7 linked regions of the Homo sapiens genome follow. The protein of the gene in region 6 interacts with the protein of the main gene of each other region in a pairwise test. Each region holds a gene or a part of one and is shown on either strand. Other genes may lie near its edges. The genes, in order: RNF11, WFS1, SPRED1, GOLM1, KLK6, CNPY3 and KCNJ6.

The links.
Region 1: the proteins of CNPY3 (region 6) and RNF11 interact in binary tests that used the Homo sapiens proteins (3 or more experiments, as listed by UniProt).
Region 2: the proteins of CNPY3 (region 6) and WFS1 interact in binary tests that used the Homo sapiens proteins (3 or more experiments, as listed by UniProt).
Region 3: the proteins of CNPY3 (region 6) and SPRED1 interact in binary tests that used the Homo sapiens proteins (3 or more experiments, as listed by UniProt).
Region 4: the proteins of CNPY3 (region 6) and GOLM1 interact in binary tests that used the Homo sapiens proteins (3 or more experiments, as listed by UniProt).
Region 5: the proteins of CNPY3 (region 6) and KLK6 interact in binary tests that used the Homo sapiens proteins (3 or more experiments, as listed by UniProt).
Region 7: the proteins of CNPY3 (region 6) and KCNJ6 interact in binary tests that used the Homo sapiens proteins (3 or more experiments, as listed by UniProt).

Annotation. Positions count from the first base shown.
Region 1 is NC_000001.11:51,238,845-51,243,135, reverse strand, and holds part of RNF11 (RING finger protein 11), read right to left. Parts: intron 1-4,291. UniProt on the Homo sapiens protein: Essential component of a ubiquitin-editing protein complex, comprising also TNFAIP3, ITCH and TAX1BP1, that ensures the transient nature of inflammatory signaling pathways. Promotes the association of TNFAIP3 to RIPK1 after TNF stimulation.
Region 2 is NC_000004.12:6,275,816-6,280,106, reverse strand, and holds part of WFS1 (wolframin), read right to left. Parts: intron 2,657-4,291; 5' UTR 2,652-2,656; coding exon 2,420-2,651; intron 1-2,419. UniProt on the Homo sapiens protein: Participates in the regulation of cellular Ca(2+) homeostasis, at least partly, by modulating the filling state of the endoplasmic reticulum Ca(2+) store.
Region 3 is NC_000015.10:38,255,667-38,259,957, forward strand, and holds part of SPRED1 (sprouty-related, EVH1 domain-containing protein 1), read left to right. Parts: intron 1-4,291. UniProt on the Homo sapiens protein: Tyrosine kinase substrate that inhibits growth-factor-mediated activation of MAP kinase. Negatively regulates hematopoiesis of bone marrow.
Region 4 is NC_000009.12:86,026,247-86,030,537, forward strand, and holds part of GOLM1 (Golgi membrane protein 1), read right to left. Parts: intron 1,648-4,291; coding exon 1,571-1,647; 3' UTR 1-1,570.
Region 5 is NC_000019.10:50,966,601-50,971,475, forward strand, and holds the start of KLK6 (kallikrein-6 isoform A preproprotein), read right to left. Parts: upstream 2,992-4,875; 5' UTR 2,890-2,991; intron 2,168-2,889; exon of another isoform or gene 1,992-2,167; 5' UTR 1,941-1,991; exon of another isoform or gene 1,917-1,940; intron 1,754-1,916; exon of another isoform or gene 1,673-1,753; intron 1,513-1,672; 5' UTR 1,505-1,512; coding exon 1,465-1,504; intron 897-1,464; exon of another isoform or gene 726-896; coding exon 569-725; intron 1-568. UniProt on the Homo sapiens protein: Serine protease which exhibits a preference for Arg over Lys in the substrate P1 position and for Ser or Pro in the P2 position.
Region 6 is NC_000006.12:42,931,949-42,936,239, forward strand, and holds part of CNPY3 (protein canopy homolog 3 isoform 1 precursor), read left to right. Parts: intron 1-2,429; exon of another isoform or gene 2,430-2,526; coding exon 2,527-2,650; intron 2,651-3,463; coding exon of another isoform or gene 3,464-3,525; intron 3,526-3,588; coding exon of another isoform or gene 3,589-3,625; coding exon 3,626-3,722; coding exon of another isoform or gene 3,723-3,806; exon of another isoform or gene 3,807-4,291. UniProt on the Homo sapiens protein: Toll-like receptor (TLR)-specific co-chaperone for HSP90B1. Required for proper TLR folding, except that of TLR3, and hence controls TLR exit from the endoplasmic reticulum. Consequently, required for both innate and adaptive immune responses.
Region 7 is NC_000021.9:37,606,411-37,609,994, forward strand, and holds the end of KCNJ6 (G protein-activated inward rectifier potassium channel 2), read right to left. Parts: 3' UTR 963-3,584; downstream 1-962. UniProt on the Homo sapiens protein: Inward rectifier potassium channels are characterized by a greater tendency to allow potassium to flow into the cell rather than out of it.

The sequences.
Region 1 (4,291 bases), on a different chromosome or scaffold from region 6:
AACAAAAGCTAATAAGGCAATATATGATTTCCAGATAAATGTTACAAACACAAAAAAACTGTACATGACAAATCAGCAGAGACAGGAAAAAAATGGTCAGTGAAGGCTTTATTAACAAAGGTGGAGTTAGTTGATCTGCCCCTCAATAAGAAGGCTGAACTTCTTGAGCATAAAGAAGGGGAGGGATAAAACTTCAAAAAGGTAAATTGTTAAAAGCTGAATAATTGTATAATAAGGCCTAGATACGTGAAATAAATTTGGAGATATTTTCCACCCAAATGTTAAACAAAATGCTAATAAAAAAACACAACCCTTTAATTATCTAAATTTAACTTCGTAAGTTATCAGGAAAATGAGGCATTAATATACCATTACAGGCAGGGCACAGTGACTCACATCCGTAATCCCAACACTGGGAGACATGGTGGGAGGATCACTTGAGCCCAGGAGTTCGAAACTAGCCTGGGCAAAGTGAGACTCCATCTCTAAAAAAAACAAGCCCATCCCCCACAAAACATTATAGCATTGCATGCTTAAAAATAAGCAGTACATTCTAGATTTTTTATAAGGAAGGGGGTTATTTTTAGTGCATTCTACAGGATAAACCAATCCTTTTAACAACAAAAGAGGGTTTTTGGTTTTGTTTGTTTTTTGTTTTTGTTTGGTATTTTAATAGAGATGGGGGTCTCACTTTGTTGCCCAGGCTGGTCTCGAATTCCTGGGGTCAAGTGATCCTCCTGCCTCTGCCACCTAAGTGCTGGGATGACAGGTGTGAGCCACTGTGCCCAGCCAAAAAAAAAAAAAAAAAAAGGTATCTTGAAGAAAGCTTTATGCAGACACAATTTGAAATATCCAAAATGTTACATTTTCTTATTTGTCAAAAAAGCTCCCCAAAACAATCTGATAAATTCTTTCCTTTTTCATATTTTACATGTAAGCGGCAGAGCCAGAATTTGAACACAGGACAATCTGACTCTAAAAGCAGAGCTATACTTGCATTCAATGCTATACAAACTTATTTTCTCAGGATTTTAAAATTTCAAATGTATCAATCAAAAAGTATAGGTCGGGGAAGAAGACTGGCGAATCTCAAACTATATAACTACTGCAAAATTGAGAGACACCTATCCTTATTTTTATATATTCAGATTAGAAAATGTAACATGGTTTGTTGTTCAATGAATATTACACTCTTTTAACAAAGTGCCTCCCTCAATTTAGCACATAACAAAGCTCTTGACAGTGACACAGGGGTACCTCAAGCTGTTTTACATATGCCTTTCAGGGCTGGGCTGCCTACCTGGCCTCCCCCTCTCATGGACCTCCCTTCTTCAGCCTTTCCTGGCTTATCCTCCCACTCACTGTCCTTCCAAGATTGCCTTCGCTGGGCAGATTTCCTCTGTATTATTTTTAAACATTTAGGAATAAGGGAGTTGGGTAGAGGGTGCGACAAATTTGTTTCTACTTTCTAATTTGACAAACACCCTAAATCTCTTTGCATCCAATACTTCAAGAATAGGGATTCAAGTACTTTCTTTTTCTCCCCCAAGTACTTTCCCATTACATAAATATCTTGCGGTGATATATATACACGGTAAAAACCCCTAAATCACTTAACACTTAGTGTAAACCAATTGCTGTATTTAATATTACTGGAATTTGACTTTTTAGGATTCCTTAAAACTGATCTACAACAGCTAGACACGGTGGTGTAACCCTGTAGTCCCAGCTACTCAGGAGGCTGAAGCCACAAGATCCTTTGAGACCAGGAAGTGGAGGCTGCAATGCACTATAATTGCACCTGTGAATAGCTACTGCCCTCCAGCCTGGGCAACACAGCAAGACCTCATCTCTAAAGGAAATAAATTTTTTTTAAAACCTGAGCCAGGCAGAGTAGAAGTGCACCTGTAACCCTAGCTACTCAAGAGGCTGAGGCAGGAGTATCCCTTGAGCCCAGGAGTTTGAGACTAGCAACATAATGAGACCCTGTCTCTATTTTTTAAATTTAAAAAATATAAAGGGCAGGCTCAGGGGCTTACGCCTGTAATCCCAGCACTCTGGAAGGCCAAGGTGGGCAGATCACCTGAAGTCAGGAGTTTGAGACCAGCCTGGTCAACATGGCAAAACTCCATCTCTACCAAAAGTACAAAAATCAGTTGGCCTTGGTGGCGCATGCCTGTAGTACCAACTACTCCAGAGGCTGAGGCAGGAGAATCGCTTGAACCCAAGAGGCAGAGCCAAGATGACACCACTGCACTCTAGCTGGGCAACAAGGTGAGACTTGGTCTCAAAAAAGAGAAAACAAAAAAACCCAAACATATATATACAGAGAGAGACCAGCCTGGGTAACACAGGGAGGCCCAGTCACAAAACAAAAAAACAAACAAAAAAAAACCTGATCTACAATATAGAAGCAAAAATGGCACTAGGAATATGCAGAGTTCTTGTAAGCAGTGCAACTATACCTGCCTCAAATACATTAGTTCATTTAAAAGAAATCTATTCATTCGTTCAACCAAATTACTGAATGCCTAACATGTGCCAGGCACTGTTATAAGTACTTAGGAAACACCAATTAAAAAAAAAAATCCCCTTTCCTCCTTTCTACCTAGTGGGAGAAGACAGGTAATAGACAACGCAACTTTCTAACACATGTTGGAATGTAATAAATGGTATTGGGGGGGAAAACAACAGGGTGAGAGGGACTTCCAGGTTATTAGGGCAGGTTGCACTTTCAAACAGGGTGGTCAGAGAAGGTTTAAGGGGGCAGTGAGAAAAGACTTGAAGGAGGTAAGGGAGTCAGTCAGCCATGAAATCTGGGGAAGAGTATTCCAGAATAAGGAGGACAAAGGTCCTAGAATAGCAATGAGGACAGGGAAGCTGGAGGGAAGCCAACAAAGGGGTTAGCTGTAGGTGTCAAGGGACATGCGTGGAAACAAGGGGTACAGATTATGTAGGGTTTATGCGACACTATAAGGAATCTGATTTTTACTTTGAATGAAACAAGGATCCACACAGAGGGTTGGGGAGACTGTCATGCTCAGTTTTACCAAAATAACTGTGGCTGTTGTATTGAGGACAGGCCTTAGCGAGGACAAGGGTGAAAGCAGGGATAACTGTTAGGAGGCTACAAAAGAAACCATGGAAAGAAATATACACTTCCTACAAACTTGGATCATAATGGTGCAGGGATTTACTTTAAGGCAAAAATAAATAAAAACAAATTTGTCAGATGTTAATAGGAAATAACTGTAACTGGCTCTTGTCATTATATGTACATTGTACATATAAAGCAGCAAACAATGACATCTTTTAACTACTCACCTCAAGAGAACATGTTCCTTTACAATCAGCTATTCACTGTTAATTACATATAATTTGTTGAAAAAGTTACTTTTATCAACTGAGAATACTATAAATCTGCTGTGTGAGGTAGCTAACGCCTGTAATCCCAGTCTTTGGGAGGCTGAGGGAGGAGGATCACCTGAAGCCAGGAGTTTGAGGCTGCCAAGTGAGCAATCCAGTCTAACCTGGATGACAGAGGGAGATTCTCAACTCAAATAAATGAATAAATAACCTTGGATTGCTGTTTCTCAGATCATCTAAAATAACCATTCCTAAGACAGATCTTATTTCTTTGGGGGTGGGGGACAATACTTTTTCTCCAAAAGTTTCTTTTTATGCTCCCATGTTTTAAAGTAATTTTCTTCTGATTGATACTGAATTTGTATATTAGTCTGCGTCATTCACTTCAGGAAACTGCAACCATAAAAAACTCCCACTGTCAAAAATATAACATTTCCAAAAAAAGTTCCTTCATGACACCAAAAACCCCTCATCCCTCATCATCACCTAGTTCTTCTGGAAAAGGCAAACACAGTTTCCATAAATTCTAGTACCTTTAATAGTACAATTATCATAAGGATAGGAGAAAGAGAACAAGTCAAAGATATTCAATTAAGAAAGGGGATAGGAGGCAGGAGAATTTGCTTGAGGCCAGGAGTTCAAGACCAGCCTAGGCAACATAGGAGTCCCTGTCTCTATTTTTTTAAAAATAGAAGGGGGTGAGGGTAGGGAGCATAAGAGATTTTAAAATAAAAACTTCATGCCAGATGCGGTGGCTCATGCCTGTAATCCTAGCACTTTGGGAGACTGAGGTGGGTGGACTGCTTGAGGTCAGGAGTTCAAGACCAGCCTGACCAACATGGTGAAACCCCGTCTTTACTAAAAATACAAAAATTAGCTAGGTGTGGTGGCACGCGCCTGTAATCCCAGCTACTCAGGAGGCTGA
Region 2 (4,291 bases), on a different chromosome or scaffold from region 6:
CTCCTTTCTAGCCGGAGTCACTGTTTCCTTTACCTGTCTGGGCCCAGGAGCCCCTGAGCTTCCAAGCCCCGACCCGTTGGCAGTGGTTCCCCAGGTGGCAGGTGACTTGCCAAGGCCACAGAGCCAGGATGGGAAGGAAGTGTGGGGCTCCAGCCCAGTGACGTTTCTGAAGCAGCCCCTCCCCAGCCTTGCTGAATGAAGGGCTGAAAAGGGGGTCAGTTCCTCAGGGAGGCAACCAGAGAAGGGCAACCCCAAGGCTGCTCTTCTCCTGTTTCCCAAGTGTACAGGCCAAGGAGCAGCTCAGATGGGGCTCCGACGATGCCTCCTCCAGGCAGTCTTCCTGATGCCCTGAAGAGTGACCAGGCCCTCCTGGGGTGCCCCTAGGGGACTGCAATGTGGGTTGTCCCCCGCGCTACATGAGCCCCAGAATGTAGTTCCTTGTTCACTCCTGTCTCCCATATTGCTCAGGGCTCCCGGAGGGCAGGACTGAGCCTTCACTCCTGTCACCAGGGCCTGGCCAGGCACTGATCTAGGGACAGGCCAACCTGCTCTGTGCACTTCTCTGAGCCTGGGACATGGGGATCCCTGGGCGCAGATGACCTGAGGCCCATAGTGAGCACAGGCTCCACGGTATGTTTAAATCTCCCCTCCACCCTTCACCAACCACGGGACGCTGGGTCATCTACTTAAGCCCTCTATCCCTCGGTTTCCCATCTGAAAAACAGGGCAGCAGCAGAGCCTGCCTCCCAGGGCTGTTAAAGAGGCAAGTGGGCTAATGCCCTAAAAAGATGCCTAGCTCGGGGAAGTGTCAGTTAAATAGCTACCCTTGTTGTTACCTATTGGTATTTCAACTGATGCTCACCCACCTATGTTGGCTGGATGGGGGAGCTAAATAACAGATTCTCGCAGCAGCTGCTACTGGCAGGGACCCTGGGCCCTGCCCTCCCTGCGGCCACTGGGCATGCAGGGCCAGGCCTGCTTTGGCCACATCAGTGACCAGTGACTGGGAGACGGGATGCCCACTGCCCCCAGCTGCAGGCCCAGTGGTGGGGACTGGGCTGTCAGGCGGCGCCCAGGGCTTGCTCTTCACCACCCCCACATTGGAGACCGAAGCCAAACAAACCACAGCTGCTTCCTGACTCTTCTTATCTGAAACACACAGTCTTGGACTCTGTCCTTTGCGGGCTGTTCTCATTACCCAGATTGAAACCAAGCTTCCGAGCCCTGGTATCTGTTCCCCTGAAGCCGTGAGGCTGGGCCCAAATCCCGGGGTCAGGCCCTCATCCGCCCAGAGGCCTCCAAAACAAAGCAGAGGAGCACAGTGATCTTTTAAGGAGATGCAAAGACAAACAGGGCCCAGGGCTGCAGTGAGTTTCCAAGGGCACGCCCAGCATAAGTGGTACATGGGAGCCTCAGCGCGCTGCGACCACAGCAGGGAGGCCCCACGGCCCTGCCAGTGGGGTGACTGGGACAAGAAGGAAACCTGGACCACTCGAGCACCTCGTCTCTCACCCGCTGGGTCTCTTGGGCAAGTCACCTAGACTCGGTGTCTCAGTTTCCCCTCTCAGGACTGCCATGAGGAGTCCTGCAGGCACATGGAAAAGGCTGGTGTACACAGCAGGCACTCACCATGGGTCTGGGGCTTCTGCATGGGCAGGAGGGGCAGTGATGAGCTGGGACTGAGCCTCCCTGGCAGCGGCCTCTCTAGCAAAAGTGAAGGCTGACCGAGGCCTGAGTCAGCTGGAGAAGGTGCCCAGGGGCCGGACTCCCCTGGCTCACACCCACCACCCTCACATCACCACCCAGGAACCAACAAGCCTGTCAGCTCTGCCTGTGAACACCAAGGGCCTCAGCTCTGCTTTGAACACCCAGGGCCTCAGTCAGCTCGGCCTGTGAAGACCAAGGGCCTCAGTCAGCTCTGCCTGTGAACACCCAGGGCCCCAGCATCCCGCCTCAGGATGGAGGTGAAGGACGCCCGTCCCTCACAAGTCTCCCTCAGGGAGAGGGGAAACTCAGCACCAAGGGCTTCGCCCGCATGTGGCCTCACTCCCGAGAGTGTGGCTGTCACCTCTGGCCTGCCACCCTAGTTGGTTACAGAGGGCCCGTGAATTTACTCCACATGTTTGGACGCTGTTGCAAATGGAAGCTGTGAAGTGCTGCAGAGGCCCTGGGAAGAGAAGGACTGCAGAGGAGTGGGGGCACCAGCACCACCTCGAGTGGGTGCCACAAAGGTGACAGGTGCAAGGCTCTGAGGAGGTGGGTAGCCCCACTGGATGGACGCCTGTGCACAGCATGGGAGCTGCACAATGCTGAACTGCAGAGGACCTGGCGGGGGGACCCTCCAGGGGTGGCTGAACCCCGTTCCCACCCAGCTATCCCTGAACATCCCCAGCCTGGGCTTCCCAGCCTGCTCCCTTACCGGTGCCGTCTGCTCTTTCCCGGCTCCTGGTATGCTGGGCCTGGGGTTCAGCGGGGGCCGCTGCGTCTCTAACACCAGGGCCAGGGCCAGCCTGGGGTCCGGGTGCTCGGGGCCTTTCGCTCCTCTCCTGCTCCAACGAGGCTGTGGCATTGAGTCGGGAACGCGCCTGGGGCTGCGGTGCTGGCGGGGGCTGTGGGCAGGAGGGGCCCAGCGGAGCAGTGTTGGAGTCCATCCTGCCTGGAAGAAAAGTCAAGGTCAGGCACATCCAGCACCGGCAGAGCCCGCTCTGGCACTTAGTGTCTGCTGGAGACAGAAAAGCAGAGGGAGGCAGGTGGGAGCTGCCAGACACTCCATACAGGATCTCGCTGACACTCAGTACAGTCCCCATGGGCCAGCACCGCTTCCAGGGAGGAAACCATGGGAGGACACTCACCCACGTGACTCTACAGATGGCATGGCACTTACAATCTCAGACCTGCACATGCCGAGGCCTGGAGTCCCTGCCTCACTGGGCATGAGCCACACAACCCTGGCCTTCCCTCATCCAAGAAACGGGGATGATGATAGCAACACCCAGAGCCCACCCATGTGGAGCCTGGCTGCAGGGGGCTGAATTGGGCCCCACATCATGTGCCCACCAATGTCTGTGAATGTGCCCTTATTTGGAAAAACAGGTCTTTGAAGATGTATTTAAGGATCTTGAAATGAGATCAGCCTGGAGTAGGGAAGCCCTGGCTCCAAGAGCTGATGGCCTATAGGAAGAGAAGTGTAACAGAGCCATGCGGAGACGGGTGACAGTGGCCAAGGAGCAGGAGGACCACTGGCCACTGCCAGAAGCTGGACAGAGGCGAGGAACTGAGCCTCCCTCAGAGCCTCCAGGAGGGACCCACCCTGCCCACACCTTGACTTCAGACTTCTGCCTCCAGAACCATCAGAGAACAAACCTCTGTTGTTTTAAGCCACCAAGTTTCCAGTAGTTTCTTACGGAAGCCCTAGAAAACTAATACGCTGGTACTGAGTAAAGTTAAGTAAATATGAGAGGGGAAGGGAGCTGGGGAGGGGAGAAGAGGGCAGGGGAGAGAAGAGAGGGAGCCAAATGGGTGGAGCTGGGATTCATACCCAGATCTGCCGCTCCACAGCCCCCACCCCAGGCCCAAGCCACAGCACCGAAGTCAGAGGACTGATGCCCCAGAAACCAACACAGAGAGTAAAAAGCAAACTAAGGCAAACAGTGCGGTGGGGGCATCAGAAGAGACTAGAGTGAGCAGAGATCCCGTGACCCGTGTCACGCCGGAGCAAGGGCTTTATTTTATTCAACAGAGGCCCTCACATGCTGCTTAGCAACATGGAAAAACACCACCATCCCTGTAATGAAGGACAACCACCGGCCACAGACACAGAGCTGAAAGCGCTGCAGGATCCCGAGCCCCGGACCCGGATGGGCCCTGGATGAGCGGCGTTAGGGGTGGGATGCAAACCCCTGGCACTGCTGGACCTTGAACCTGCTGCTGTGTGAGGCTGTGGAAACTTTTCCTCAGATTCCCAAATGACCCTCCCAAGCTCAGGGCCACAGCCATCCTCTGAGGCACAGAGCAGGGAGAGGCTGGTAACAGAGAGTCTCGCTCCCAGCCCCAAGCTGCCGCAGCGCTGTACTCCTGGCTCTGTGCCCACCAGCTGTGTGGTCCTGAGCAGCCCACATCCCGCTCTGCACCTCAGCCTCCTCATCTGAAAATGGGGACGGGGCAACTGTGAGGACCAGTGAGACCAGACACCATGGGCAGCACGAGGGAGTCCCCTGGCCACCTCTGAACACCCAGCGCTTGGCACTGAGCAGCCAGGTCTGAGTAGGTGCCCAGAGGTCACTTTTGGGGG
Region 3 (4,291 bases), on a different chromosome or scaffold from region 6:
AATGGAAATTTATTATTTATAGTCATTATGAAGAAAGATACGTATCATGGCAGAAGCCATTAAGGCCTTAGCACAGTTTAAAACTGCCCTGTAACATGGATTTTATTTGGGCCTTACATTTTTTTCCCTTTTCTCTTTTTTAAAGCCATTGCTCATAGGGATTTAATTACAGTAGGGACTATTTTTAACATTCTTTAGTTTCTTTTTCACCTGATTTCAACCTTCAAGAAAAGTGAAAATCACCAGTTTCCTGGGAAACCATTAACCCTTTCTAGATAGCCATTGTGGTAAAATCCAGTAGGGCCTCATTCTGAAATCCTCGAGTACATGCTTATTATTTGAAATTAAAGTTTTATGTAGAGAAATGGATAACTCCTAGGCTGACTGTGAGAATATATTTAATCAAGAATTAGTGGGGGATCTGTTATGTGTAGGGCTTTGCTTTAATGCCAAACCAAGTAAGGAAGAAATAAATTAGAATAAAGCATTTCTTAGATTGTTTCACATTTATGTTTAAAAATCTTACTTTTCAAAAATAGTAAACATACTCTAGAGCAAAAGAATTTGTGTTATAAATAGTAGAGGAAATAGCCACATACATGTTTGTTTTGTAGGTAATTTGCACAGAGACTGTTTAATACTCCAGTCAAATGTTTCCGATAGATATAACTGTACCATATTTTACATTATTGAATTAGCCTTCTAAATAGAGTTTTAAACATTTAAAGGCATATTATATAATACTTAAGAGTCTTTGTCCTTTGGTATTGAGTGTATATAGCACTGCATGTCCTTTTGTCAATTTGGCCAAAACATTTGGAGAAGTGAAGTAGCTGAAATAATAAGCATTTGGCTTATTAGGTTCACGTTAGCCAGAAACACTTCCTGTGTCAGTATTAGGCTTTCTAATAGCAAGTTGGGATTATATTAGATTTTGGAATTAGGTTAACTAGAATTAGACCATGTATGATAAACGTACTATGTTGTAATCTGAGTTTGAACTGTTTTTCCGTAAATAGAAAGCAAATTTTTATGGTTATATCATTTAGTGCCTCATAAAAAATATACCCAGTGGTGAGTTATTTTTGATAAGTGTAAATAAACATATGTTCACCCCATACATTTTACGTATGTATATGTATGTACACACACACACATATATATATATATAAAATTGGAAAACATTCTAGAAATAAATGGAAGCACTGGAAAGCTGTGTAATATTAAGCCATCTAATGTTTGTTTATATAGATGTGGTGTATACATAATATAAAAATTTGCTTATTATTCAGTTGGCCTGTGTAAAAATCAGCTAAATGACTGCATACTTGCTTCAACTTAATTTCCCTCTGCTTTCTCACTTAAAACTTTATGATCCTGAATTATATATTTTAAACACATTATGATACCATACCTAGAATTCCTCTCCTTACAAACTTTTGTAAATTTGTCATTTTTCCCCAAAAGACCTTCTCTCTTCCCCTCTTTCAACACTCTGTCCCTCTATGTTGCCTCTGTACTTCGTACATATGTATATTAGTTTTAAAATCATATAATATTGTGATTATTTACTTATTTCTATGACCGCTATTCTGTAATTCCCTACTTTTGTTTGTATGCCTAGCACAGTGCTTGATGGCAAATGCTCTACAAATGTGGTTGAATTAATGGAGCCTCATTACCTCATTTTTTTGTTTTCTCTGAATTTATGCATTTGAGATCATTAGCTGTATTAGAAAAAAAGGCCGAAAAAGAGTATGGGAAAAGTAAATTATTACCCGTTTAAGAAGGCTTACCTTTTTTTTTAAGAAAAGACAAAAATTGGCCTCATTTTTGACATGTTTTGTTTCTGCAAGTTTGAGAAATAACTTAGATCAGGCTTAAAAACTGTCCTAAAGTGCTGTTGGGATGTTTGGATGTGCTTGGCCTCTGAGTTATGTGGTGTATCTGAAGACCCGTGTTATATCCACAAGAAGGTAGACATTTGTGTGTCTGTCTTTTTTGGCATAGGAAGCTCAAAATTTAGGAATATGTATCTCCAGCTGTTTATCAGTTTTAAGTCTTTAAATTGCTCTCCCTTTCCCCCATGGTTCCACATTAGTGCCAAGGGTGAGGAACTGACTAGGGATAAAGAAGTGAAATTGATCAGGAAAGGGTAAACAGCAGCAGATTCCGTGATTTTATACTGCAGCTGTTGGTGACTGAGAACTGCCTAAGGGGAAAGTGTAACAATTTAGCCTTTTCTCTGGTGTTGTATAACTTGAACTTGACTAGTCTTACCCAGTTTGGGGAAATGATTGGTAAAGACAAGCCTGCTTTTCTTCTCCATCTTTCAGTAGGAACAGGAACGACATTAAAAATGCCAATTTAAAAAATGCTTCACCCCATGTAAGAGTAGTAGTTTATTTCAGATAATGTACAAAATGATCTCTAAAGTGAGTAATAATTTATTTGCAATTCTGCCATTAAATAACAGCTGCTAAAATTTTGGTCTACATGGAAACCTTTCTTATGATGTTGGTGATGAAACATATTCATTTATTAGATTTTTACTGTATGCCAAGCACTGTTATAAATGCTTTATGAAAGCATTATGTAGTTTATATATATACATGTGTTTCTTCTCAGTGGAATGGAATTGCACAGTGGGTACAATTGTAGCTTAATGTGAATATTTTCTTAAGTCGTTAAATATTCTAGAATATAATTTTTAGTGGCTACATTATGTTCAGTGTATGATATACATTAGTTGTAATCAGTCTCCTATTGTTGGATATTTTAGTTATTTTTAAACAATGTTGCATACCATCCTGAGTTCTGTCTCCATCCAGATCTCTTACTTTTCCCTTGAGATAGTCTAAGAATGGAGTTAAAAGAGAGGAAAATATTTAATTTTATTCTTTCTGTTAAATTGCCCTCTAGAAAAGAAGTATTTAGTATATGAGAGTGCTTAAACTTTGAAATGTCTGTACAGTTGTCTGAATTTTTCTTTGCCAATTTTGAAGGTAGAAAATGAAGTCTTATTTTTTAAATGCTTTATGGTAAAATAAAATTGATTTAAAAACTTATTAGGTTGTTTTGCGGTAACTAGAATGTTTTTAAATGCTATATTATAAATAGAATTTAAGTGCTCATGTAAAAGCCATTTGTACATCATTTATTTAACTCTTACCATCTTCTGTGCAGTATGGTATAGTCTAAAGAACACTGGACTTGAAATTGGGAGATGGATTTCTTTTGTAGCTATTTTTAATTTATTCTCTAATCCTGGGCTCTGTAGGCCTCAGTTTGCTGATTTATAAATTAAAGAATTTGGACTAAGCATCATATGTGCCCTTCCTTTGTTGATGGTGTATGATTTAGACTTTGTTAATTTTATTATATTGTTATTTTTGACATACTTAAACAAAAGACTTAAGAGTAGAAGTGGTAGGAAGATTAGGTAAAAGCATGCATTTTGAACAATTAAGATACAAAATTTGGAAACAATTGGTATATTAATAGTCTTTTAAGACTTACTTTGGGCTTAATAGCCATGTATCTTTGATGACACAAAATTTTGTACTACTCAATTTTGTTTTTTATGTATTTATTTATTTTAAAGAGGCAGGGTCTTGCAGTGTTGTCCAGGCTGGAGGGCAGTACAGTGGTATGATCATAGCTCACTGCAGCCTTGAACTCCTGGGTTCAAGTGATCTCCCACCTGTGCCTCTTAAGTAGCTAGGACGACAGGTGTGCCACCACACCTGGCTAATTTTAAAATTTTTTGTGGTGATCGGGTCCTGCCCAGGCTGGTCTCAAATTCCTTGGCTCAAGTGATCCTCTTGCCTTGGCCTCCCAAAGGGCTGGGATTACTGGCATGAGCCACCATGCACAGCCCTCATTTTAAAAAAGAGAAAAAAAGTATGGCCTCCATCTGTGGATGAATAAGTAAACAAAGGCTATTGGGCTTAAACACCAACTTGATTAGTTCTACAAGGAATATGCTAACAAGATACCAGTCTTTATGCTTTACTTACAGAAGTAAGTTTTTTACTAGGTCACTTATACAAATCAGTAATGTAACACTAGGGGATAACTGTATATTAGTTTAAGAAGTTAACTCAGGTAATGAATTTTGTTATTCTTTAATGTTTAGATTTATGATAAGTATTATGTCATAGCTGCATCTCAGAATCCAGAACCAAAATTATTACATATCTGTGAGATTGTGTTTTTGCGATACTCAGAATGAAAAACAGTTCATTAATAATGGATTTCACGCTAAGGTATTATGTTGCTGTAGACAAAG
Region 4 (4,291 bases), on a different chromosome or scaffold from region 6:
AACCCCAAGGAGGACTCAAAGTGAGGCTGGAAGAGGACTTAGAAGAGTATGAAAGTACTCTAAGATTTTATCTAAGTTGCCTTTTCTGGGTGGGAAAGTTTAACCTTAGTGACTAAGGACATCACATATGAAGAATGTTTAAGTTGGAGGTGGCAACGTGAATTGCAAACAGGGCCTGCTTCAGTGACTGTGTGCCTGTAGTCCCAGCTACTCGGGAGTCTGTGTGAGGCCAGGGGTGCCAGCGCACCAGCTAGATGCTCTGTAACTTCTAGGCCCCATTTTCCCCTCTGAAAATAAGAGGGTTGGATCAAACGATCTCTGGGGCCTTAGCATCTCAAATCCTGTGGATCCTCCTACTTACCCCTTAGAGAGCCTTACTGGGAAGTCAGTCATTAATGATGTGGCCAGTTATTTGCAAGTGGTAAGAGCCTATTTACCATAAATAATACTAAGAACCAACTCAAGTCAAACCTTAATGCCATTGTTATTGTGAATTAGGATTAAGTAGTAATTTTCAAAATTCACATTAACTTGATTTTAAAATCAGTTTTGTGAGTCATTTACCACAAGCTAAATGTGTACACTATGATAAAAACAACCATTGTATTCCTGTTTTTCTAAACAGTCCTAATTTCTAACACTGTATATATCCTTCGACATCAATGAACTTTGTTTTCTTTTACTCCAGTAATAAAGTAGGCACAGATCTGTCCACAACAAACTTGCCCTCTCATGCCTTGCCTCTCACCATGCTCTGCTCCAGGTCAGCCCCCTTTTGGCCTGTTTGTTTTGTCAAAAACCTAATCTGCTTCTTGCTTTTCTTGGTAATATATATTTAGGGAAGATGTTGCTTTGCCCACACACGAAGCAAAGTAAATAAAGACCACAAATGTTCAAATTCTAAGCCACTTAATAGCGTTTTGTACATTAAAAATGACAAGGGTTATTATACAAGTAGCCTTTTAAAAAATTCTCACACAGAACAGCTTTGTATTTAGACTTAAAGCTGTTGCTACTTTGCTAGTGACGTTTGTGTTAACAGTCAGTGCTCTAGGCCATTGATTGATTGATTGTCAGAATCAGAAGTGACTACACAAGAGCATTAGCCAGACTTTTCAGTGAGAACAGGTAACAGGCTGGCACCAGCACTTGGTACAGCACGTGGACAGGACGACGGAACCCAGAGTTCTCTGTCTCTCCTTCACAGCAGATGGACTCTTCTATAGGTGGCTGTTAATTTACACAAAGTTATATTCCAGAATCAGGAAGCCCCGCTGTCGCCAACACTTGAAGGAGAACTATGTTCCAGTTTTGGTGTTGAACTTCTCACGAAATACCTACTACCAAAAATTGTGACACCTTATTAGACACTTCCAAAGTACCCCCCAAAAGCTGTTTAAAAGACCATTCCATTTTTTCCTACACAAAGTGCATACTAAAATTTCACAATAATCATCTTCAGATGTACATTTTATTTAGTACATTTCACAGTTTTCAGTATTCAGTCCCTCATGAACATTTTATAGTCATCTCTTCGGCCCTGTTGTGAAATATGTGATTCCAGTTCAATTCAGAGTGTATGATTCCGCTTTTCACGCTGATCAAGTAAATTTATGGTGTCTCTTTTCTGATCTTCAACATTAAAAACTAAAAAGGAAAAACACATAATATTCTATAGAGTATTAAATGAGATACTAGCCCTAGGCAGGTCCCATTTTCTTATCAACTTCTAGAAACTGTCATAAAGAGGACTGCATCTCCCACAGCAACACTGTAATTGGGAGTTGTATTCCTCATCAAGGACAAGATGGCAACGGTGATATGGGAGGGGGACAGGGAAGTGCTGGGTAGAGAAGGGCAGGGTCACTGGCAAGGGCTCCACCCTCAGGCTTGTGCCCATGGACCTAATGAGAACAAGGACTCCTGTCTTCTTGCCCAAATGTTGCATTTTCCAAGACCACTCTGGCCTGCCATGCCACCCATTCTGTGCCTATAAAAACCCTGAGACCCCAGCGGGCACACACACAAGCGGCTGGACGTCAAGAGGAACACACTGGCAGAAGAACACATCGAAAGACGCTGGCAGGCCATTGATGGTGGAACGATTCGGACGCCAAGGGAAATTCGGCCAAGGACAGTAGGAGATCCCGGCTGCTGAGCAGCCAGACTCCAGAGGAAGACTACCTTCCCATGCTATCCCCCTTCTGGCTCCCCAGCCATCTGCTGAGAGCTACTTCCACCACTCAATAAATCTTGCATTCATTCTCCAAGCCCACATGATCTGATTTTTTCAGTACACTAGGGCAAGAACCTGGGATACAGAAAGCCCTCTGTCCTTGCGATAAGGCAGAGGGTCTAATTGAACTGATTAACACAAGCTGCCTGTGGACAGCTAAGCTGAAAGAACGCACTGCAACACACACCCAGTGGGGCTCCAGGAGCTGTAACCACTCAACCCTAGATGCTGCCGCGGGGTTGAAACCCATCCTCCCCACAACCTGTCCGTCCGCATGCTTCCCCTAGGGGTTTGAGCTGTGGGGCACTGAAGAAGAAAGCCATACCCCCATTGCATGCCCTGTGAAGGGGATAAGGGAACTTTTTTTTTTTTTTTTTTTTTTTTGAGACGGAGTCTGGCTCTATCACCCAGGCTGGAGTGCAGTCGTGCGATCTCAGCTCACTGCAAGCTCCACCTCCGGGGTTCACGCCATTCTCCCGCCTAAGCTTCCCGAGTAGCTGGGACTACAGGCGCCCGCCACCACGCCCGGCTGATTTCTTTTTGTTGTTGTAGTTTTAGTAGAGGCGGGTTTTCACCCTGTTAGCCAGGATGATCTCGATCTCCTGACCTCGTGATCCGCCCGCCTTGGCCTCCCAAAGTGCTGGGATTACAAGCGTGAGCAACCACGCCCAGCTGGAACTCCTCCCCTTTCAAAGTGTCCAAATGGATGACCAACAATGTGCCATGAAACAAAGCTGAAGCACCTAAAGATTCCATACTTGTTTGTAACAGTGACATAATGCCCCATATGCCATAGAAAATGGACAGTATCAAGTGCACTCATGACATTTTAAATATAATCACCACGCTCCTGTGCGGCGTGACTCCCTTGCTACTGCACTTCTAATGGCACACGCTGCCTCCTGAGAGCTGTCTGCAGCTTCAGACAGCTCTTGTGACTCCAAAGCTCTCCCTTTACAGAGCTGATGTCTGTATGTAGCTTCTACCATCTGATCTTACTCTATCCTTTTAACACACAGAAAACATAAAAAGGCACATCACAAATAAAACCTAAAACCACGGTCTTGATTTATAACTATGGCACATTAAATGGTAGTTTAATGACCATTAAATACCTGCCATATTAAATTAACGGTATCTGTTAAAGGCTCTTAATAAAGTTGGAGCTAATGCTTTTTTCTTCTAATTTCCCTGGAGCAAGTAAGGTCTCACTGTTTCAATGACACAATCTTAAAATAATGTTGAAGCTGATGTTGACATTTCTTCAGCTTCTTCAAAGAGCTGACAAGGCACTCATTTTCTTTACCTTACCTACTTACTTTGTTTAAAACCTTGCACAAGGTCAAGTCCTTAGGACACCTGAGTGTAGGGAATGAGAGATCCAAAAAGGCTTCACCGCAAAGCCCATCATTTAGTAGGAAACTAGGCCCAATTTAAAAGGTGGTTAGAGCCGGGGTGGTGGCTCACACCTGTAATCCCAACACTTTGGGAGGCTGAGGCAGGCAGATCACCTGAGGTCAGGATTTCGAGACCAGCCTAGTGGACATGGTGAAACTCTGTCTGTACTGAAAATACAAAATTAGCTGGGCATGGTGGCATGAGCCTGTAATCCCAGCTCCCAGCTACTCAGGAGGCTGAGGCAGGAGAATCACTTAAACCCAGGAGGCGGAGACTGCTGTGAGCCAGGATTGTGCCATTGCACTCCAGCCTGGGCAAGAAGAGTGAGACTCTGTCTCAAAAAAAAAAAAAAAAAAAAAAAAGAATAGAAGTAAGACAGTGACCAGACCGTGAAACATGCTCAAGAACATAAATGAGTGGAGTCAATGACAACAGAGAGTTTGTATTTGCTTCAAAGTCTGGCTGCTAGTGTATTTTGCCATTTGCCTTTTTAAAAAATTGCCTAAATGAAGACAGCTGAAAATTCAAATTAGGACTTGGATTCTAAAAATTCCAAACAACTCTGCCAATTGAAACAACTGACATCCTGGAGAAATATAAAAGATAATTTTTAGGGGGACATTGTTGAAAAATCAGACAAGCACAGATTGAGGGACT
Region 5 (4,875 bases), on a different chromosome or scaffold from region 6:
GACCAGCCTGGCCAACATGGTGAAACCCCGTCTCTACCAAACATACAAAAATTAGCCAGGCAAGGTGGTGCACACCTGTAATCTCAGCTACTTGGGGTGCTGAGGCAGGAGAATCGCTGGAACCTGGGAGGCAGAGGTTGCAGTGAGCTGAGATCATGCCACTACACTCCAGCCTGGGTGACAGAGCGAGACTGTGTCTCAAAAAACAAACAAACAACAAAAACAAAACTGCCCAGTGGCTTCCTACTGTGCTCAGAATTAAATCCAAATGCCCATCACGCCCTGCAGGTCCCCAAATGATCCAATTCCCCCATTAGAAAGTAAGTTCAGGAAAACAGCAATTTTGCTTGTTTTTTTTTGTTTTCTTTTTTTTATTTTCTTTTCCACTGCTATGCCCGCAGGGCCTGGCACACATTAAGTACTCAATTAAGCAACAGCCGAATGCACCTGGCTATCAGATGGCCTCGTGCTGGGATGGGGGGGATGCCTATGTCACCTCCTGCCTGACATCTATAAGACACCCTCAGGGTTCAGTCGCATCTGCTGTTCATTTACAGTGTAGACTCACGGTTTTTTGCAGTGGGCAGCTGTGAGGACCCACAGTGGATGGATAAGGACCCCACCACAGAGCAAGTGGCCCGAGGTGTAGAGGGCAGCTTGGTAGGGGTGAGATGTCTTGTCGCAGGGTCCGCCATGCACCAACTTATTCTGCTCCTCTGCCCAGGCTGAGGGAGAGAAGATCTGAGTCAGAGAGGAGTTCTGGAGAAACCAAGCGCATCCCCCTCAACATGAACTCCAGTCAAGATTGGTCAGGTGCAGTGGCTTATGCCTGTAATCCCAGCTGAGGCAGGAGGATCGCTTGAGCCCAGGAGTTTGAGACCAGCCTCGGTAACACAGTGAGACCTCATCTCCACACACACACACACACACACACACACACACACACACACAAATTAGCAGGGTATGGTGGCATACGCCTGTAGTCCCAGCTACTTGGGAGGCTGAGGTGGGAGGGTCACTTGAGACCCAAGAGTTCAAGTCTGCAGTGAACTATGGATCATGCCACTACACTCCAGCCTGGGTGACAGAGTGAGACCCTGTCTCAAAAAAAAAAAGCTTCTCTGTATTTCCACTCCCAAACTTACCCCATTCCCATTACAAACCCAACTGTATCCCCTATTCCCGGGCTCTCTCCAACTTTCCAACCTACCTCCTACCTCTTCTATGTTTAGATCCCCATCCCTAAAGCCAACCCCACCCCAAACCCTCATATCTTCAAACCCACCTCCCACCACCCTCCCTATCTGTATTCCCCACCCTTAGCCTAATCCCCAACGTCTTCCTCATTTCAAAGCTCCCCCACCCCAACCCTGTGCATATCCCCATCCCCAATACCAGCCTCTTCTCCATCAACAAGCCCAACCCTGTCTGCAAGCCTCCCCCATCCAAATGCCCTTTCCCCACCTGCAGCAATCAGACTCAGCACCACCATCAGCTTCTTCATGGCCGCTCCTGAGAGGGGAAGCCACATGGTCCATTAGTCACTGCCTCGACCCTCCCCCCATCCCTCTGTCTGCTCCCTCTGCATCCTCTCCTTCCTTCCTGGCCTGCTATGGTCTCCTGCCTTGACCTCTGTCCTTCCCATCTAGCCTCCTGATTTATTCTTCCTCAGCCCACATCTTCCATCAGAGGATCCCACGAAAACAGTGCCAAAGAGAATTCAGAACTACGTCCACTGGTCCAGTAACCCATGGTGAGATTCTGATTAGATCTTTCTACTTTCTTGGGCACTGATTTGCCTTCCTGTCGACAGGAGAGGGTTACCCTAGGGGGCCCTAGCGTTCTTCCTCTGTATGGGAGTTTTCCTCGGAGCCTGGCTCTGTGCGCAATGGCCACCCACCCCGCCCACCCGGCAGGTTCTGTGATGTCTGTGATCTCACCTGCTGCAGGCCTCCGGGCTCCGGGGATTCTTGAGTCGGGGGAAGGAACAGCTTTGAGACGAGGAGGCAGAAAGAGTTAGAAATGCGGGGAGCCGTGAGGAGAGAAGACACTCAGATGCAGTGGCAGAGCCAAGCGGAGGACGCAGGGGCCGCAGAGCCCAGGGCTGCAGGGACTGCCAGACACACACCCCCAGCTCCCAGGCCTCCCTGGAAGAGGCTGGTTCTGTCCCCAGATGCTTCTGGAACGTCCTTTTAACCCCTGTCTCTCAGGTCCCTGAGCCAGGAGACTGGCTACACCCTTTTCCTCCTTACCCAGGCCTCCCACACACATTCCTCCCGCCCCCACGCTCTGCTCTTGGTGACCCCTGACCAGGCCTCCAGGGAAGGGAGCACTGGTCCCTGAGTGCAGTGAGGGCCTGGACTCCTGGGTCTGAGGGAGGAGGGGCTTGGGGGCCTGGACTCCTGAGTCTGAGGGAGGAGGGGCTGGGGGCCTGGACCCTTGCGTCTGAGGGAGGAGGGGCTTGGGGCCTGGACTCCTGGGTCTGAGGGAGGAGGTGAGAACTTGGACTCCTGGGTCTGAGGGAGGAGGGGCTGGGGGCCTGGACTCCTGAGTCTGAGGGAGGAGGTGGGAACTTGGACTCCTGGGTCTGAGGGAGGAGGGGCTAGGACCTAAACTCCTGGGTCTGAGGGAGGAGGGGCTGGGGCCTGAATCTGAGGCAGAGGAAGTTCTAGTCGGCTCAGTCCTTAGACCTCCGGGTTTTGGAGAAAGAAAGTGTCTGAAGACAAATTCCGGCCTCTGGGGCAAGCAGATGGTGCCCCAGGCCTCCCTGCACCCCCAGCACTCTCTGTGCCACCCAGGGACCTGCAGGCCCTCACTCCGGGCTCTAGAGCCCTCCGGCACTGGGAAGCAGCCTGCCCAGGTTCAGTGCGGTTGGGGTGACTCACACACCTGCCCGTAGGTCCCTCTGTGTGCTGCCTGCCGACCTCTGTGTCCCCAGGAGAGAGCGAGCCAGCCAGCCGGGGAGACAGCTACAGCGTGTGTCACCACACTGGCCCCCGCCCCTGCCCCGGGCTGGGGAGCAGGCCCAGGCGCGATGGGGAAAGGGCCCAGGAACAATCGGGCTTTGTCCGCCCCCAGCACCCCAGTGCCATGCTCCCAGCAGCTCCGGCCTCAACCTCTCTTCCGGCGGGCAGGCGGGAGGGCGGTTACATCAATGGCTTCCTTTTGTCCCTGTCTGACAGTCCTCCTTTGCAGTCTCTGACTGCCCACCTGGCCCTGACTGGAGATTTCGGCACTCCACATCCTCCTGGTCCTTCTCCTCCAAGTCTGCCCACCCCTGAGGTCTCTTGCTCCATCTGTCTCCCTGGCCATGGAGGGGAGGGAGCTTCCATCTCTCTCTCTCTCCCATCTCAGTCTCTGTATTTGTGTCTCTCTCCCTCTTTTTTTCTCTCTCTCCCTTCCTCTCTCCCTTCCTCTCTCCCTTCCTCCCTTCCTTCCTTCCTTCTTTCTTTCCTTCCTTCTTTTCTTTCTTTCTTTCTTTTTTTTTGACGGAGTCTTGCTCTGTCACTCAGGCTGGAGTGCAGTGGTGTGATCTCAGTTCACTGCAACCTCCGCCTCCTGAGTTCAAGCAGTTCTCCTGCCTCAGCTTCCCAAGTAGCTGGGATTACAGGCACCCACCACCACGCCCGGCTAAATGTTTTTTGTATTTTTAGTAGGGAAGAGGTTTCACCATGTTGGCCAGGCTGGTCTCAAACTCCTGACCTCAGGTGATCCACCCACCTTGGCCTCCCAAAGTGCTGGATTACAGGTGTGAGCCACTGTGCCCGGCCTCTCTCCCTTTCTTTCCCCTTGATTCTCTGACTCTCCGTGCTTATCTTCTCCTGGGTCTCTTCTTAGATTTCCCCGGGGGTAGCACTGTGTGTGCCCAGAAGGGAGTCAGTTTCCCCAGGAAGTAGCGGGGATGATTCCCGAGCGATGAGGAAGCTAGCAGGATGGAAGAGGACTTGAGGACTTATTGATGAGATGCGGACACACAGCGAGAGGCATGGAGTTAAGCAGAAATCGGAGAGCACTTGGGAACGACGTGGGGCTGTGATAAGATGGTGGTGCTGGGCAGTAGCAGAGGGATCTGGGAAGATTTAGGGAGGTGTCTTTGAACTTGGGCCTAGAAAGCTGAGCCAGGCGTAGGTCAGGAGGAAAGGCCGTGAAAATGCCTGGCCTGGGTGCACATGGGAAACCACAGGCAGTGGTTGGGGTGGTTGGTATGGGCTGGAGGGTGAGGGTGTGTGCGTGGCAGAGTGGAGAGAAATGAGGAGGGGGAAGTCACTGCGTAATAAGGACAATGATAGGAATGAAGTCTGGCTCAGCACCTGCTTGGGCTGGGCACTACAGGTAACTTAAAAAAAAAAGTTCTTTTTTCTTTTGAGACAAGGTCTTGTTCTGTCGCCTAGGCTGGAGTGCAGTGGCACGATCCTTGCTCGTGGCAGCCTCAACCCTCCTGGGCTCAAGCGACCCTCCCGCCTCAGTCTTCCCAGGAGCTGGGACCATAGGCATGAGCCACTGTTCCCAGCCAACCCTTTTCTTTGTCTTGCATTGAATCTAATTGTCATCTTGCATTGTGCACCCCCCATCACTCCAGGGATGAAGACTACTTCGGTATTCAGTATACTCTCCGGGTGCTCCCTCTCACATTTGGTCCCCACTGACCTCAGCACCTTCTTCTCAGGACGTGCTATCTTCACAGACAGCAAGTCTGATGTTGCACAACCCAGTGACCAGGCCCTATCCCTCTGCCTCCTCTCTCTGGGGGGTCCCTTCCTCTCTGTACCCACACCCTCAACCCCAACTCAGAGCTGCACCTCTCCCACCTGGACCAGGATCCCTCTGTTCTCTGTATCCCTTGCCCCAGAGAGACCTTCCTGTGCCTTGTGCTGA
Region 6 (4,291 bases):
CTGACCTCAGGTGATCCTCCCACCTCAGCCTTCCAAATTGCTGGGATTACAGGCATGAGCCTCCGTGCCCAGCCTGTATTCTGTCTTATTCTGATATCAAAGAGCCCATACTCTCCCTCTTATTATTCTCATAGCCTAAGGAGCTCACATTTATTCTCCTTAGGCAACATTCACAGACTCACGGAAGCATAGAGATGCCCAGGATCTCTATATCTCTATATCTAGAGATCATTCTAGTCTACCCTCATTTGGTAACTGATGAAGATTAATTGAAAAGGGATTTGCAGTCACAGGATGGCTTGGCAAACTCCAACCGTTAGGTTCATCTTAATAGTATATTTGTTTGTATTATTATTACACCTTTGTTATTAAATGCTGACTGTGTCTAGCCCACCAAGCCTGCCTCCTGGCTCAGTAGCCTGAGTGGAACAGGCCTCGGCACAGAGGAAGGAGAACCTGCCCGGAAAAAAAGAGTGGGTGGATGTCAGTGAGGGTCTGGTGTCTGTGCCGTGAATCTCCTGTGAGTCTGGTTCTGGGTGGGATCCGCAGAGGAGGTCTTGAAGAGGTAATGTTTGGAAGAGCTGGAAAGCAAGGCTGTGGTTGATGGGTATGAGAGAGAAAGGATGTTCCAAACCTCCCCTTTCCCCACTCCTGGGGAGGGCGTGGGAGGAGGGGCAAGTGGTGCTAGAAAAATGATGTGCCTGCACAGAGTACAGGACAGAAGAGGGGAGGGAGCCCAGATGGTCCTGGATGGAGAGCTGGGGAGGTGAGACATCCCCAGTTCATTGCAGACTTGAAGATCACCAGCTTATTACTTGGAATTTGTATGTGTTTCAAATTCTCCAAGCCATTGATTAATTTCACCAAGCAGGCCTCCAGGGGATGTATTTATTTTTGTGGTAAATTGGTATTCTAGCAGACTGTGCTGTCAGTGTTAAAACTGCTGATGGCATTTAGCCTTCAGACTGGTATTCCATTCAGAGGCATCAGAAGACGGTCTCTATCAACAAGATTTATCGAGCGTCCAGCATATATCAAGTCCCAGGCTAAGGAAATACGAAAAAATCTAATACATAATGCACATTTTGGGGACCCTTGTGGTCTATGTGGAGAGACACATCAAATGACTGAGGGTCCTTAGGGAGAGCATGGATCCTGCAGAGGCCCAGAGTGAAATCTAGAGCAATTGGCATTAGTGCAGAATGGCTTCCTGGGGGAGAGGCTTATAATGCGAGGTGGGCAGGATGGGCAGAGAAGCCCTTAGAAGGCATTAAGTATTTTCCTAGGGCCTCAGGCACTTCACACCCTCGGTGGTAGCACTGTAGCACTCTATACAGTGGTAGTTATTTGTCTACACCTTTATCTGCTGCATTAGACTGAGTATCTGGAAGGGAGGGGACCTTGTTTTCATCTCTGTATCCCCAGGCTGACACGTAGGAGTTGCCTAATACCTATTTGAGGAAGGGTAAGAGGAAATGAGGAAATAAATGTGCGGAGACAGTAGGAACAAGAGCTCTCTGGAGGGCATGGAGCAAATTAACTTGGTAGAAATAGAGCTGATGTTGGAACACATATGAAATCAAGTAATCTAACAACCATAAAAGATGTTTTGGGGACAATTAAGGAAATTTGAATATGGACTACTGGGTGATGTTGGAATTGTTAATTTTCCAAGTATCATAATTGTTCTATGGTTATGTAGGAGGAGGTCTTTTTTCTCAGGAGATACATGATGATATATTTATCTCAAAAGGTCATGTTTGCCACTTACTTTCAAGATGGTGTAGCAAAAGAAATGTATATATTGTTGAGATATTATAATTATATATTGAAGAGAGAATGTGGCAAACTATTAACAACTGTTGAATACAAGTGGAAGGTATTCATTGTGTTCTTTCAGCTTTTCTGTATGTATGCAATTTTAGAAAGTAAAATGATAGACCCTGGCGTGGTGGCTCACGCCTGTAATCCCAGCACTTTGTGAGGCCGAGGTGGGCGGATCGCTTGAGGTCAGGAGTTCAAGACCAGCCTACCCAACAAGATGAAACCTGTCTCTACTAAAAATACAGAATTAGCCGTGCATGGTGGTGCATGCCTGTAATCCCAGCTACTTGGGAGGCTGAGGCAGGAGAATCGCTTGAACCCAGGAGCTGAGATCTCATCATTGTACTCTAGCCTGGGCAACAAGAGCGAAACTCCATCTCAAAAAAAAAAAAGGAATACGAAGAACAATTGCTTAAGGGCAGGATTTACAGTAAGTACATGCTCTTACACAAGAAACAGTAGATAAAATAGAAATCCTAGAGGCATTCCTGAAACTGGGGTTAATCAGAAGTCAACATGGCACATTAGCATCCAAGATGGAGTTGCTTTAGCCTCCACAGGTTCTAACTCCTTCCCTGCCTTGAGTGCTGATTTTGGTCCTCCAGTCTAGGAAAGGATGCCCACCTGGATCTGTTTTGCTGGGAGCTGGCCTCCCATTAGACTCATGTGCACTCAGTGGGCTGTGCTACCTCCCTCCCCCAGTGTGTAAATATGTTGCTGTGGAGCTGAAGTCAGCCTTTGAGGAAACCGGCAAGACCAAGGAGGTGATTGGCACGGGCTATGGCATCCTGGACCAGAAGGCCTCTGGAGTCAAATACACCAAGTCGTAAGTGAATGGGGACTCACTGGCCTGGCCTGCGTTGCTGCTGGAGGCTTCAGGGGTTTGGAGTTCCCTTCTCCTAGCTAGGCAAACCCCCTACAAGGGCATCATTTGTAACCAAGACCTGAGTTTGCCCACTGATTCTGTCCCCAGCTAATTGGGTGACGTGCATAAATCTCTTAACTTCTTTATGCTTCAGCAGATTTCTCATCTCTAAAAGCAAGACTGTTGGACTATATCATTGATTCTCAGACGCTTGGATTTCACAGAGCAATGCAAGTTTTTTTTTGCGACGGAGTTTCACTCTTGTTGCCCAGGCTGGAGTGCAATGGCATGATCTTTGCTCACTGCAACCTCTGCCTCCCGGGTTCAAGAGATTTTCCTGCCTCAGCCTCCCAAGTAGCTGGGATTACAGGCATGTGCCATCACGCCCAGCTAATTTTCTGTATTTTTTTAGTAGAGATGGAGTTTCACCATGTTGGTTAGGCTGGTCTCGAACTCCTGACCTGAGATGATCCGCCTGCCTCGGCCTCCCAAAGTGCTGGGATTACAGGTGTGAGCCACCACACCCGGCCACAGTGCAATTTTTTAAAACATTAGTAACAGGATTACCAGCTTTTTATTTTGCTAGGTACAAATATAGTTTTTAAAAACCCAATTCTGTCAGCTGTGATCATCCTTTCAAAGAGAATGATATTTTACTATCAAAATTTAATAATTTTGCTTTATCAAAAAATCTAAATACTGAATCATTTAGCTTTATAAAAAATTCCTTCCCTTAGAGCTGTTAAAATTTTGTCTCTCTGGTCTGTGTTCCAGCATTTCAGATCCCCCAGACCAGATGACCTATCTTCCTTCCAGCTCTGAGTCACTTCCCATTGGTGAGATGTGCAGGTGTTGGGGCACAGGGCTGGAGGGACAGACCACTAACCCACTGCGGCTAGGAGGGGAACTCAGTTCCTCATCCTCCTGTCTTGGCAGGGACTTGCGGTTAATCGAAGTCACTGAGACCATTTGCAAGAGGCTCCTGGATTATAGCCTGCACAAGGAGAGGACCGGCAGCAATCGATTTGCCAAGGTTGGATTCGGGATTGTCCTTCATCCGCTCTGGGGTCAGGCCTGCATGTATCTTAGTGTGTCTGCTGGTGTGAGTGTGATTTGAAGATGACCACCTGGGATCTTCCTTCATTGCCTCTTCCCATTCTTTGATTGCCGTTTGTGCTCCTCCCCTCTTGAGTGGCCTCATTTTTCAGGCACATGCATGAGGGTCTGGGCCTGTTCATGAGGGTCCTGCTTCAATCTCAGACACAGGCAGAAATGCTCCACAGTTGCTGCCCCCGTGGGAACCTAAAGACACTAGAACGGGGAGAACTCAGCAAGATCCACGATGTGCAGAAAGGTGGGGGTTTAGGCGAGGTGTCAGAGGACACCTCGGTGGGAGTGACTGCCCAGTCCCATCTCTGGGTCCACACAGCACCTCCCACAACCCCGCTGGGATGCCCTTGTGATGGCCCATGTACTCAGTATGTGTACGAGTGCTTTTCTCTCTGGAGAATGAGCTGCTTACAACAAGGCCCATAGTTCTTACTCTCTACATCTTCAGTGCCTGGCACAGGGTAAGATAGTTGCCACCCACATTTTTCTACC
Region 7 (3,584 bases), on a different chromosome or scaffold from region 6:
CCCTGGATGCATCTCCACAGGGTTGCGTGGGGCTTGATGGGTGCCAAGTGCGACAGACACACAGGGGCTGGGGGACACAGAGGACAGGGTAATAATTCCACCAGGCACAACAGTAATATTGGCAGGGGCACATTAGGAAAATCAGGACGAAATACACACGATGTCCCAGGGTTTGTTTCACCAAACACTAGCTTCTGGGAAAGAATTTATCTTAGGCACATTTTTACATGACTTTTGTTCATGTTACAGTATGAGGCAACTCACGTGTCATTTTAAACCTTGGCTTCCTGCACGCCTCGGTAGAGAGGGACAGCTGGCTAAGCCACCAGCCCGAGATTCCCTGGTGGGGAGGAGTTAGAGCCGAGCCGAGGCACTGGAGTTTGGCAAAGCCAACCCATGCAAAATGGACCACTGAGAACACGAAAAACTCTCACGGAATGTTTCTTTAGTCCAACATGGAACTTTATCATGAATGATCAAACTCCTTTTATTAAGACTCTTAGAGCTGTGACAAGGGGCAGGATCAACTGCTCTGCAAGTCCCTAATTCCCTTTCGTTTTTTTCAAGTTCCATGAAGTGCAAGGTACAAACAGGTATCAAAGGAGTCCCACTTGGGTCAGTAGGTGTGGAAAGGAGCGGAGCTGACCCATTGCTGGGATCTGGCCATAGGCAGAACATTGTGGGAGAGATGGGGAAAGAGACAGGAGGGGGAGAGCGAGAAGGAGGAAAGGGAGCAAGAGAGTTAGGGAGAGAAAGAAAGAGATGGAGAGAGAGGAAGAGTGGGAGGGAAGAAGAGAGAAGATCACTCCAAACCCATGGTACTATCCTTGGGTTATGCCTGATATGCCTGACATCTTGAGTGGCCCTGGGGCAGGGTGTTGCGCTTTGAAACAATTCATGCTCTCACTTGTAGAAAAGGCCGACTTCTTTGGACACAGACACACATAAAAAAGAAACCAAGGCCATATCAAATTTTTCTTTTATTGTTCCAGTCAAAAAAAGAGGAACACCTCAATATGTAAACAGTTTCCCTAACACAGCGAGTTCTTAAAGATATATATATATATATATATTTTTTTTTTATTTTAAAAAAATTTGGCATTGTAGTGATTTCTCAATACATAATTTGTGCTTTCGCATTGAGCATGCTTTCGTCTCATTGTCCGTGCACAGACATACTTGGAGTTGAGTAAAGGGAGTTACAAAAGGACCAAAAAATGGGACAGGAGCCAAACCAGTACTTGAGCCCTACCTGGTGTTCCTTCCTAAAAAGCATGGTGGAAAAGTTGGCAAGATTGACCTCAGAAGCAAATCTTAGTGACTTTATTCCAAAGAAATCTTAGAAGCCTTGGTAGCAACTTTTGAAAGAAGCATTTCTTGTTTTCTTTCTGTTCATCCCTAAAGGATCATTGGTTTTGCTTGGAGAAAACTTTAGTTATTTTGTATGTTATATTTCTTAATATCCCTAAGTCCCTTCTAAAATAAACTCTTGTTTTGTGATTTTGCTGGACACATGATGGTTTACAACTACATGCTATTGAAATTCCACTAGTGATTTATTCTGCTTTTTGCTGAATCATTTCAAAGTGCTTGACAGTTGTGTAAAGACCTTTTGGTTTTGTCCAGTGAAAATTATTTTTTAATTCAATACTAAAGACTTCAGAGCCTTTAAGATGCAATGATGGGTTTATCAATAATACTGTTCATGCTATTCGTTTCTTAGTCCTTGTCCTTAGCCTGAAATTCTAAGTCTCTATAAATTAGCACCAGTTTTCCAAATGCATATTTTATCAAATCCTATGATCCTAGGCTGGTCTAGGTACCATCCCCCAATCTTACCTTGTGTGTTTCTGTTTTAAGACCCTCTCCCATGCTGGCCTTGCAAACTGAAATGCCTTTGCTTTTGGATCTCTCTCTCTCTTTTTAAAATAGAGATGGGGTCTTGCTGTGTTGCACAGGCTAATCTTGAATTCCTGGGCTCAAGCAATCCTCCCACCTTGGCCTCTCAAAGTGCTGGAATTACAGGCATGAACCATTGTGCTTGCCTGCCCTTGGATCTCTGTCTCCAAAACCTAAGCAGTCTTTGAGAAATGTCAGGGCAAATGTCCCTTTCTTCCTCATGAGGCCATTTCTTACTGCTTACGCAGAAACTGATCTACTTTCTTTACATTCCAGCAAATTTGTTGTGCCTGTCCCTCTTCGTTTAGGTATTTCTAAAACTAGACTCAGTTACTTCACGTGTGAAGTGGGAAGCAGTATTTTCTCACAGGGTTTTGTGTGGTTCGATGCACTTAGCGCAGTGTTGTTGCATGGTAAGGGCTGGCAGCCATGGGATTACAGGCTTGTTGAGGACAGTGGGGGATGTTACTTTTTCTCAGAGTCTTCATAGTAACTTGTCAAGGACATCACTCACTGTACTGCAAGTGTTCACTGAGTGCTCATGGCCAGCACTCAGGCAAGTGAATACACATTTGGAGTAATAAAATATGGGGCATCAGCTAACTTTCAGAATATTTTGAGTGGAGTTTTGTCCTTGTCTAGTTTTAGTTGCCTGTTGGGATCCCTGAGTATAAAAATACAAGTGTGTGCCTGCTCCCAGCATTGACGAGCTTCATGAACCTTGAAAATGGAACACTTTATTTCTCTGTAGGATGTGAGCATTTGATAAAGAACTCAAGTTCCTGAAAAAATTTCTGGAGACAAAGTTGAGGATCAAGTATCATCTGTGCTTCATTTCTTTTGGGAAGATGTGCGTTCTCTAGGTGTGGATATTGGAGTTGGCACACTGACATGCACCCTAATGACCCTCAGCTTGGGGACCCAATTCTGACACCTGCTGGGCTTTGCTTTCTTTGCTTAACTAGTTCTTGAAAATTCTGTGTGATGGTGAGAATAAGAAGTTCCAGGTACATAGAAACATGAATGTCCACAAACATGCAACCCCCAAACTAGATGCAGTCTTATCTTCAATCGCATAGATTCAAAATTAAAGAGACTATTGAAACCTTGGCACTGCTAGAGACTTTTGAACTAATAGCTTTCTGGAATAATTTTCTATCCTAAGAAATAGCTCACAGAACAACCCTATATTTTACTGGGCCATAGTAAACATTTTGGGCCTTAATATAATGCCATTTTATTAGGAAAGACAAATACAATGAATTATCTTATGATTAATAATGAAAAGTGGCCACTATTTTCCATTACTGGTATATAACTAAAATAAAGCAGTAGTGCTACGGTTAAAATAAATCAGCTTAATTAAAATATTATGGTTTAAGCTTTTTGCCTCCTTAATTATCCTGTCTGGTTTAGTTTTTGTTTTGTTTTTCTGACTGGGGCCCTAGGTGCATGCTTTAGGGAGGGTAGAGCTGGATTTGGGTTAAAAGCAAATTGTCAGTAGCCTGCTGGAGCTGAAGGAATTGCTCATGGATGAGCTGGCGAGATGCAGCCTCACATTTATTTTCTATCAATGATGCTGACCTTCCTTGGACATTTTTCTACTGCAGAGAAGACCACAGTGCATGTCCAGTAGCACCTCATTTATCTAGAAGGCACCTACCTCACAGCTCATCTCTCTGCTA